Linked DNA regions of Homo sapiens. The protein of the gene in region 2 purifies or fractionates together with the protein of the main gene of each other region. This does not show direct contact. Each region holds a gene or a part of one and is shown on either strand. Other genes may lie near its edges.

Region 1 (5,492 bases), on a different chromosome or scaffold from region 2:
GGATGGTGATCTAGAAGGACCTCTAAGATCTAGAAGGATAAAGATCTGGTCCAAGGAGTACAAATATGTAATGGATCTACCACCAGTGTCCCCTGCTGTACTCTTGGCAGACATCACTAATCCATCACAGCATGCCTTCCCACTGATCACAGATGTAGCTTCAGGGCATTCGAGTTACCACTTAAGATGGATATGAGTGACCCTCCCTTATCTCACTCTTCTCCTTTCACAGAAGCAGGATCTGAGGCCCAGAGAGGGAAGCTATAATAAACTCCCCTAAGTCAGGTCCCTTCTAAGAGGCAGAGGTAGGTTTAGAACTCAGGCCTCAGAAACTTCCAGAAGCCAAGCCATTTGGGCTGTAGTTGGTGGACAGTCTATCAGCGCTCTGCAGATGTTTCTTCTCAGTTAGGGAACTTGGAAAATGCAGAAAGAAAGATTCTGTCTCTAAGACTCTGTGTATGATCCTACTCGGTAATCTGCCTGCTTGGAGAAAAATCATTTATCTTCTGGGACGGCTTCACCACAAGGCCTGAATGCTATGCCCAGTCTAGTAACAGCTGGGCTGGAAGTCACGGCATATGGGGGCCTTAAGGAATAACAGTGTGCGTGGTGGTGTGCAGGAGAGCTGCAAGGGCTTTTCTTTCTTGAGGAGGTTTGTAAAATTTCTGCTGTTCAGTCTGGGCTTCTGGGAAGTCAGGGGGTGCTGCATATAAAGGGCAGGAAAAGGAGCCTGACTCCAATTGCTCTTTGGTTTCTTCCCTGAATGGAAGGCTCAAAATCAAGTTTCCACCCAGATAAGATCTTGAGGTCCTAGTGGACCACCAGCTCTACTCCTGAGCTCTTGAAATACCTCTAATCACCAGCTCGGTGGCTGAGAGTACCTTCTTGTCCACTGCCTCTTCTTTTCCTTCTCGTCTTCACTTATCCCCCATCCAACTTCTGCCCGATAATATCTCCCCTGTATTGTAAACTGAGGAGAAAGTTGCACAATTGTAGAGATGAAAAATAGCTGCCATGTATTTAGCTTAAATTAGCTCAGAAGAAAGGCTCCCTCCCTCCATTGAGCGGGCAGCACTTGTTTATGCCAACATGCTATTTGCATCGCGCCTTCTTAAATTTGAAAGTCTAATGATTAAAAACAAATCTTAGTTTTTCTTTTCCACCACTTAAAAAAAAAAAACCAGCTTGGCTAGTTCTTCTAGTTTAAAAATACCCTGACCTCCAGCACTACAGTGAGAATTTTGGAAAGGCTGGTACCAGGATATCAGGAGGAAATAAATACAGGCCAACAATAACCAGAGGCCTTTTCTGAGTGGTGGGCGACAGGATGAACAAGGTAGAAGAGAGGTCTTTGTGTCCTCACACAGATGCTGGCATTCTGGGTTTGTCTGGAATTCAGTGAACCTCTGTCCTCTCTGACAGAGATTTCTTCACCAACCATTCATTCAGTGGGTGATTTGTTGAGCATCTACTATGTGTTAGACCCTGGGCATTCAGTGATGAGTGATACAATGTCTCACCTGTTCTGAAGCCTAAAGCCCAATGGGGAAGAGAGACAAGAAGCAAGTCAACCACAAATATATAAATTTGCAACTCATGTAGATCTATGGAAAGAAAACTCACGGGGGACCAGAAACATGGGAGAGGGTATACTGTGGGAGAGCTGCTGACAAAGGTCTTTCTGAGGAGGTGACATTTAAGTCAAGATCTAAAGGAAGAGAAGGATAAAGAGATGTTCATTCTAAGCCAGGGTTTCTCAACCTCAGTACTGTTGAGCTATTTGGGGCCAGATAATTCTTTGAGGTGGCGACTGTCCTGGGCATTGGAGGATGTTAAGCAGCTTCCTCAACTCTCCCCACAAGATACCAGTAGCACCTGGTACTGGTGACATCCAAAAACATCCCCAGACACACCCTGACTTTGCTGTCTGGAATCAATCCTCATAAAGCCCCAAGCCTTGGAGCACAGAGGCTGGAAGCCCATATGGTGGCATGTCAGGCATGGTGTCACCTGAGCTTCTCTGACCCCCACTTCTGATATGGCATCCAGTTTGGAGTCTCTGTTCTCCATGAGCTCCCATAGCTGTCCCATATTCCACAAGGCATTGCTTCTGGGCCACGGTCCTCTAGTTCCAGCATAGCCCTATTTTTGGGTATGTTGGTGGATTTCAAAAGCCTCCAGTTGACATCCAAAGTGTGACATCCAAAACCATCTCCAGACATTGCCAGATGTCCCCTGAGTTGTCTCCAGGCCACGCGACTAGGATTCAAATCCAGCATCCTGCCATCTGCAACCTTCCATGGGAGAAAGGAAATCAGAGGAGAACAGGAAAACACAAGGAGGGGACTCCTTAAGTGAACATTGCAGGGAAATAGGTTTTTAAAGCACTAGTTAGCATCACCAGTGGTTTGAAGGCTGTCTAGGTAAGGAGAATGTGGACTTGCCTTTCACCGTCTGCACGGACAGGGGCTGAAATCTCCAGTCATTCTCTCCATCCTTCCACAGCCCTTCTAAGAAGCAGATCCTCTTGCTGAGCTGAAATCTTGAGACTTGCATCCGGCAATCTTGGTGTTGCTTTCTGAGGCTACTCAGGGAAAGCCCTTCTGTATTCCCCAGGAAGGAAAGTCTCCCAGATAGTGAAGGGCCTTTTCTACCTTCCTTGCAATTCCCAGTTCACTGTGAAGAAGAGAGTCAGGCCGGGTTAGAATGGCTGTCTCTGGTAGCAATGAAGCAACAACATAGACAGTCTGGACAAGATGTGGCAGTTCTGTCCAGTCCCGTGTGACTGATTTGGGCATGGAGACAGGCAGTGGGTGAGGATGGCCTCTGTAGGTCCAGCTGTTTTACCCCTAGAATCAAATCCCTGGAGCTTCCGGCAGTCCCAGGATTGGGAAGGGTAACAGAGAGGACGAGTCGGGCACTGCAAAAGACCAGATCTTGGAAAATTGCTTTGGGAATTGGGACACCTTCCAAGAAGACAGTTGAGTTGGCTGGGGCTCTGCCCTAGATGGGGTCAACCTCTCCCCAACACAGCCCTGCCCAGGTTGGGGCATTGGCAGCTTAAGTGCGTCCTGGACAACAAATGTAATGTATTGGTCCTGTAAGATTCTAGCCATTTTCCTCTGCTTATTTTTCTACATGTGTTACAAGTAATAATGTTTAGATGGGTACATATGAACTTGTGTAAGTTCAAGTAACTGCTATGTAGCTACAGCATGGGCATCAAGGTACTCTAAGGTACTTGCCCTGCCACACCGAGGCCCCCTGCCCCGGCCCCCTTTCCCTCCTAGCCAGCCTTCTAGGGAGCACTGCACACCCTGCCCCTTCAAAGCTATCTGGACAGTCCTGGCTCGACTGGAGCATTAAGGGAGGGGCTGTCCTTGGTCAGGCTTCTGCCCAACTGTGTGATGCATAAATCTTTGCCTGGCTCCTTCTTCCTTCTTTTCGGAAGTCTATCTCCTCCTGAGGGCCTCTGCGGTCCTAACCTATCAAGGAATATCATAGATTGTACTCCCCACCCCATCAAAACACACCCTGACTTTGCGTCTGGAATCAATCCTCATAAAGCCCCAAGGCTTGGAGCACAGAGGCCAGAAGCCCATATGGTGGCATGTCAGGCATGCTGTCACATGAGCTTCTCTGACTCCACTTCCAAGATGGCATCCAATTTGGAGTCTCTGTTCTCCATGAGCTCCCATAGCTGTCCCATATTCCACAAGGCACTGCTTCTGGGCCCCGGTCCTCTAGTTTCCTCATAGCCCTATTTTTGGGTACATTGGTGGATTTCAAATGCCTACAGTTGAGCAGCCGAAGGATTCTAAGAAAATTTTGCTTGTATTTCAAAGGCTCATGTCCCCAGCCCCATTCACTACACCCTCAGCAGAGCCCAGCGTGGAGCAACCTTGTCCCTTCATTCCCCAAATCTTCATTTTATATAGTCATTTAGTAAATATTTGTTAAGTGCCTCCTGTGATTCTGGAAAAAATGGAGAAAAGTGGGTGCTGCCTTCAGGGTACTAGGAGTCCGATGAAGAGAGGGAGGAGTTCCAGTAGGGTCCCGAGGCCCCACAGGAGCTCCCAACCCAGAGAAAGACCCTCCAGGAAGGATTCTCAGAGGAGGAGACTTCTGAACCCTGTCTTGAAATTTGAGTAGAATGGTAGGGAACGGTGTGTCAGACAGAAGGAACAGCCTATGTGTGGACTCAGAGGCAAGATCATGATTTATTGAGGGTAACTGCAAGTGGCTAAAATCCTGCCCCCTGGCACTTGCCTGCCTTTCCCTGCTTTCCCCAAAGCCTGATTTTGGGACCCTGGAGTCTCCATCTCCAAACAGAGGGTGCCCTGGCTCAGATGTGGAGACCTTGACTTCTTTCCCCAGCATGCTCTGGTTCCTACTGTTAGCCTTGGTGTCCTGTGGGGGAAGATGTCTGAGGAGAGTTTTGTGCTTGCTGGAGTCAGACCAGTACTCAGGCCACCTCAGGCCTGCTCTGCATCCCTCTCTGGCTCTACAGACCTCTCTCTCTCTCTCTCTCTCTCTCTCTCTCTCTCTCTGTCTGTCTGTCTCTGTGTCTGTCTCTGTCTCTGCCTGCCTCCACACAGTGAAGGATGTGTCTCTATTTCTTAGTGCCCTGCATTGGGTCCTGAAGTCCATGGGCATCTTGGCTATAGATGGGTTGGCCATGAGCCCTTCTCTCTAATGCATTTTTCATTCCTGTTCCTCTTTTGCTTCACTTTCCCTCTATCGACTCTTGCGACCTGTGTCTCTGATGTCTCTGGGGCCCCCAGTTCTGTCTTGCCATACCAAAAAACCTTCTTCAGCAAAAAACCTCTTTCTGGGACAGTTCATATCACTCTATGAATAGGCCCCTGAAGTGTTGAGGTCAAGGACATGTGTGAACGTGGAAATGTATTTATGGAAAGACCCTACACTGAGGGTCTCTAACTAAACATTTCAGGTATGATGGGCAAAATGCTGGTTTGTTACAGAAATGACTGAAGAAGACCTAGGGGCCATAGTGGGCCACAGGCCAAGCCTGCAATACAGCCTGAAGTGTGGGAAAGAATGTATCAGTCCTGTTGATGGAGTGGTGTGTTTGCTGTCTCTATAAATATGTCAGGGTTTGAAAGACAGAAAACAAAGCATCTTTGCTGACCGCCAGACTCCCAGGGTATATGTGGCTACTGCAAATTAGCGAGGCTTGTTTATCTGCTTCAACTTGACTCAATTTGCATTTCTTGAGCCACTGTCTATTGTGGATAATGATTTCATCAACACTTTCTCAGCATCAGCAGCCCCTCCAGAGTATTCCTTGAATTTTCTTAGCTTTGTGCAACCCACGAGCACTTAATATATCACTAACCCTTGAGTTTATTGGAGGGAGTGAATGAAATAATGAATGTCAATAACGTTACGCAATACCTGGCACACAGTAGGTGCTTCATCAATGTGGCTTTTCTTCTCAATCACCCAAATGAACCTCCCCCAGAATCCCA
Region 2 (5,492 bases):
TTTCAACTTTTTTTCACAAAAACTTACAAAAAAGAATCATCAAGAAAAAATTGAACATGCAACTGGTATACTGGGTTCCTCTCATATAATGTACATGGTCCTAGAGTAGATAACTTGGAGAGACATCTCCATGGTTATTAATGTACCTGGAGGCTAATCACAGCTAAAACTTAAAACTTGACAGCCTGCAAGTGAGAGAATTATAGTTCCAGAGTACCAAATTCAAATCAATGGGTAGAAGCTACAATAGGTAAATTTTTCATTCAATATAAAAATGAATTTTCAGTTTTTTAAATGGTTTGGGTTGCTTTGTCAGGCAGTGGGCGCCCTGACACTGAACATGTTCAAGGGAAGACTGAACGATGACCTGTTAGTCATGCAGTAGAGGAGAGTCCTGCTTTAAGGGACTGAAATGTTTCTACCTGGGAGAATCTATGCTCTCAACAGTTTCTGACATATACATATACATGTTGGGATTTATTCTGTTTCTCCCTTCTACCACATATTATAATTTTTTATTCTATTCTCTCAGTAACTTATAACTCTTTATGGCATTGAGGAATCTGCCTAGGAATATTATTGCACAGATTTTGGGGTGACAGCTCTCTCCAGCCATATTGAGTTCTGGAGATTATAGTCATTTGTTAGTACCATGAACTTTGACCCTGAGGTACTGCCTTCTCCCTCTTATGTACCCAGAATAGCCTATGTAATTAGATTGCTTATGGACTTCTGCTTCATGGTTTTTCAGTTAATGTACTGGGCACCATTTAAAAAAACAAAACAGAACAAAACAAAAAAACCTTTCTGCTACTCCTCCAGAATTGTTTTCTGTCTTGGTCAAAAAAAAATTATGCTTTTTCCAACTTTGAAGGCACACAAAGTGCTATTGTTGCTGTTGCTGAAACAAAGGTCTTCCATAGGAAAATTAGATCCTGAAAACTCAGAACATTTCACCTCAGCACTGCTTACAGTACTGCAGGATGATGCTTATCCTCGCCTCTGTTTCAGTTCTCTCAGCTACTGGAAGAGAAAAACACCCTTTCCATTCAGCTCTGCGATACCAGTCAGAGTCTTCGTGAGAACCAGCAGCACTATGGTGACCTTTTAAATCACTGTGCAGTCTTGGAGAAGCAGGTTCAAGAGCTGCAGGCGGTGAGTAAAGAGAAGGTGAGAGACTGGGAGAAGTGTGATGAAATTTAGTGCAAGTGGTGAAGCACTACAGAGCAGTATGGAAGAAGTTAATGTAATTAGGGGTCAGGGAAGAAAGTGGGAGAGAAGAAAGAGTTAATTGAGATGGGAATAAGGTCTGAGAAAAATTACAGTGAAGCAATTAGAAGAAAAAAGATCAGTGAGATGGTGGGAGAGAAATCAAAACATGAGTAGGAAACAGTGATGACTGAGACATTTGGTACTCTGAAACAGAGAAAGTGTTGATTTTGCTTTAAGTTATAAGAAAATTGTAGGAAACTTTGGATCTGAGAACAAAACAGGCAGCACTGTTGACAGCCAGGGAGAGGAGTACAGCATTGAAGTTGGAGGAGACTGAGAATTAGTATGGAGACGTATAGGATACGGAGGAGGAAAAGGGGGTTGGGAGGGGCTGGACAAGCAAGGGAAGGATCAAAGTGGCTTCTGGAAAAGCCATAAGCATCCACAGCAGACTTAACTTTTTTTTTTTTTTTTTTTTTTTTGAGACGGAGTCTCGCTCTGTCGCCCAGGCTGGAATGCAGTAGCACGATCTCGGCTCACTGCAACCTCCACCTCCTGGGTTCAAGCAATTCTCTGCCTCAGCCTCCCGAGTTGCTGGGATTACAGGCGCCTGCCACCACACCCGGCTAATTTTTTGTATTTTTAGTGGAGACAGGGTTTCACCATCTTGGCCAGGCTGGTCTTGAACTCCTGATCTTGTGATCCACCCACCTCGGCCTCCCAAAGTGCTGGGATTACAGGCTTGAGCCACGGCGCCCGGCCCAGACTTAACTTTTAAGAGGAGAAATTCAAGAATGAGAATCTGGGAGAAAAATCTAATCAAGACAAGAGTTTTATGTAGGTGAGTAATCTGCTAGAGCAGAAGCTTCTCACTTCTAAATTTGGACTTGAGAATTATAAGCGGGGATAGTCCTCTGTAAACGAGCTCTCATTTTGCTCAAATACACTTTCTTAAGAGCTTTCATCACTGAATTACTAAGCTTATTCTTCTTCCAGGGGCCACTAAATATAGATGTTGCTCCAGGAGCTCCCCAGGAAAAGAATGGAGTTCACAGAAAGAGTGACCCTGAGGAACTAAGGGAACCGCAGCAAAGGTAGGGGAGTGGCTCTCTAAACCCTGGAGCATACACCAGAGTCCAGAAATTGGGCAGTAATCTAGATTTAACTGGAGTCCTTTATATGGATTTAATATGTCTTGTTATCTTATTAGCCTCACAGAAGTGATGTGAGGATCAAATAGTAACAATAATAACTAACATTTGTGTGTGAAAAGTTTGTAAAACAAAAAGAGCAACACCAACACACACACACCACTAACAACTACTCTATGATAGTAAAATGAAAGATAATCAGTTCCTGAAATTTCTTTAGGTATTTTCTGCAGCTTCATTTAATCCCTCTACAGCTTTGCTTTTAAAATATTGTGTTTAGACAAGCTTCTATGGATTTTCTTGCTTTACAACCTTATGAAGACTTTGAATCCCTTGTATTAGCAACTGTTTTCTGCATCTGATGATGCTTTTTGTTTTCCTCTCATCCTAAAGCTTTTCTGAAGCTCAGCAGCAGCTATGCAACACCAGACAGGAAGTGAATGAATTAAGGAAGCTGCTGGAAGAAGAACGAGACCAAAGAGTGGCTGCTGAGAATGCTCTCTCTGTGGCCGAGGAGCAGATCAGACGGTAAAGGCTGAAGGAGATAGCCTCTGTTCCCTTCCGATCCTTTCTGATCAAACTCATGTACATTTCCTGCCAGACTTAGGATTTCTTAAGATCTTTTTCTCATCTTGAGGTAGTTGCTGCAATGAGTTTACCAACATTGTGGTCACCCAAGAGAACACTGTACTTTTGGAGTATAAGAGAGTCAGTGTTTTCTAAAACAGTTGTTCTTAGAGAATAATAATGATATCTACCATTACTGAAAGATATTTTATTTCACCCTAACCATAACTATATGAGGTAGGTGTTGGGTTCTCTAGAGGACCAAATAAGTGACAACCTCATTTTCTACCTGAGATCTGAATCCATGGAAATCTTTTTTAAAAGATTAAAAGATTGAGAGATTAAAAGACTGCTTTATAAATGATGTTAAAAGAATGTAGCTTTTTATTTGTTGGCAAATGCACTTCCTAACCCTGAACTTCCCCTCCCAGTCACAGACAATGTTGGGCCAAGGTAGACCTCCTTCACAGAAAATCCTGCTCTTGCCAAACAAGAGTATTGGAATAACAGAGTGAACTGTGCTTCCTATGAGCAGTTTGCTCCAAGTGTAATTTGGAAGGGCAGAGCTACACATCCCTAGTTCCTTATTCTCATCAAAAGAATCACTATGCATGAGAGGATAGAGAGTTGCTACAAGTATTTTGCTGCTGGAAGTCCCTTTCCACGGAAAATATCGTTAAAAGCAGGCACTTTTATTATATTTTGGGAGAAAGCCACCTATGTATATGATCACTTTCCTCAGAGAATGACATTTCTGATATTAATGCTTTCTTGTAAAGTTTATGTGGCAGAGGTGACAGCCCCATTGAGCAGGTCTTACTTGAGATACCTTTCTTTCCAATCCAACATATTCACAACTTCTTAATTTTCATCACCTATTCAGGCCTTGATATGCAGCTTTGAGGGTGGGCCAGCTTTGCTTAATGCCTTGTGTGGTGTCTTGCCATCTCTGCCGAGCATTTTCAGGCCTGTGCCCTCATGACTGTTTCTCTTCTACTTGCTATTGAATTGTTTAGACCGGTGAAACCTGGCCAATGGGGAGGTTGATCTCCCTCTTGTGTAACTAACCTGTCCCAAACCAACTGAGACTGCATGTGTGGGATGATGACTCTTGAGCCTGTGGGCAAGCCGTATTAATTCAAGCCACAATTCCCTCTTTAGCTCTGATGCAGAATGGAAGTTGGGGTAGCTAATTAAGGGCTGCCTGCCTAGTCCAGGTACTGCCATTGTAATGTTAGAATCTCACATGTACTCTAAAGAGCAGGTGGAACTCAGTGGCCCTCCAGTTTAAAGGCAGCCAGTACCATCTTCCTCATCAATACCTACAGACTTCTCATCCTTCCTCAGCATAGCCTACATTGACAGACTGACCTCCATAGTAACAGACCATGCTGTTCCAGATCAAAGCTGCTTCTGAAAAGCTTATCACATGGAGGAATAGACACAGAAGGTGTATTTTTTAGTCAGCCTGGCTCTCAGGAGGGAAGCAGGAAAGAAGGAGCTAGGCTGTGCATGCTCAGTTCTCTTTCTAGACTCACAAATTGGATTAAGGTGTTTCTTCTCTCCCGGGGAAAAGAATGTGTCCTGCAGAGAGCCCAAGAATATTAAACTAATAGATATCCTTTCAGAAGGAGAAAACACAAAGAGTAGAGGCAAGAGTTTCATCCTCTCTTCCCTATTGAAAAAGTTCATCCCTATAGGCAAATGCTTGATCAAACGTGCTGTGTTACATGCAGCTCCTTTGTTTGTTTGACATAACCATTGAGTGAGTAATGGCAGCTTCTTCATTAAATGGAGAAGTTCCAGTATTAAATAAGCAAATCAGCAAAAACTGAGCCAGAAGGCAGTGGAGACTGCCAATTCAATTTAATTTTTTTTAGTTCAATTTAATTTTTAAAACCCCACAGAAATCTTCTTTGGATGCTTTTGCCTATTAGCCTTTAATAAAAGAAAAAAATGTAATGAGTTTCTCCAAGTCAGGTGTGGTGTGGTGGAAAAAAGAACGTGAGGCTTGAAAGACAAAGTTGGGTATTGAATTCTGGCTCTGCCGCTTACTGGCTGTGCCGCCATGGGCAAGTAATTTAACCTCTGTAAGCCTTAGCACTTTGAAGATAATAAGACCAACCTCAGAACCTGAGGATTAAATGTATGTAAAGCACCCAGCCTAGAGCCTGATACATAGTGAGTAGGCAGTCAATTCCTGATAGTTATTGTCACATTTTGCTGCTGCTGAAGGAAACGTATCTGCTGGTACCCCCCTTGCATGGGTTTGGGTTTATGGGAGCAGCTTTTGCTGCAAGTCTCCTCCTGTGCTGCATTGTGTGGCAGGATGACTGGGAAGACTGGGCCTGATCAGCCTCTCATGCTATGAACCAATGCTATGCCTCTTTTTTTTCTCAACTCAGGTTAGAGCACAGTGAATGGGACTCTTCCCGGACTCCTATCATTGGCTCCTGTGGCACTCAGGAGCAGGCACTGTTAATAGATCTTACAAGCAACAGTTGTCGAAGGGTAAGAGGAAGAAGGATAAAGAGAGGGTGTTTTATTATCTGACAGGGCTGG

The links. Proteins that work in one complex are often made in the same cells at the same time.
Region 1: the proteins of GOLGB1 (region 2) and KSR2 purify together in Homo sapiens (co-immunoprecipitation; one large-scale study listed by IntAct). This does not show direct contact.

Annotation. Positions count from the first base shown.
Region 1 is NC_000012.12:117,454,093-117,459,584, reverse strand, and holds part of KSR2 (kinase suppressor of Ras 2), read left to right. Parts: 3' UTR 1-5,492. UniProt on the Homo sapiens protein: Location-regulated scaffold connecting MEK to RAF. Has very low protein kinase activity and can phosphorylate MAP2K1 at several Ser and Thr residues with very low efficiency (in vitro).
Region 2 is NC_000003.12:121,664,875-121,670,366, reverse strand, and holds part of GOLGB1 (golgin subfamily B member 1), read left to right. Parts: intron 1-1,011; coding exon 1,012-1,155; coding exon of another isoform or gene 1,156-1,170; intron 1,171-2,208; coding exon 2,209-2,306; intron 2,307-2,756; coding exon 2,757-2,891; intron 2,892-5,335; coding exon 5,336-5,441; intron 5,442-5,492. UniProt on the Homo sapiens protein: May participate in forming intercisternal cross-bridges of the Golgi complex.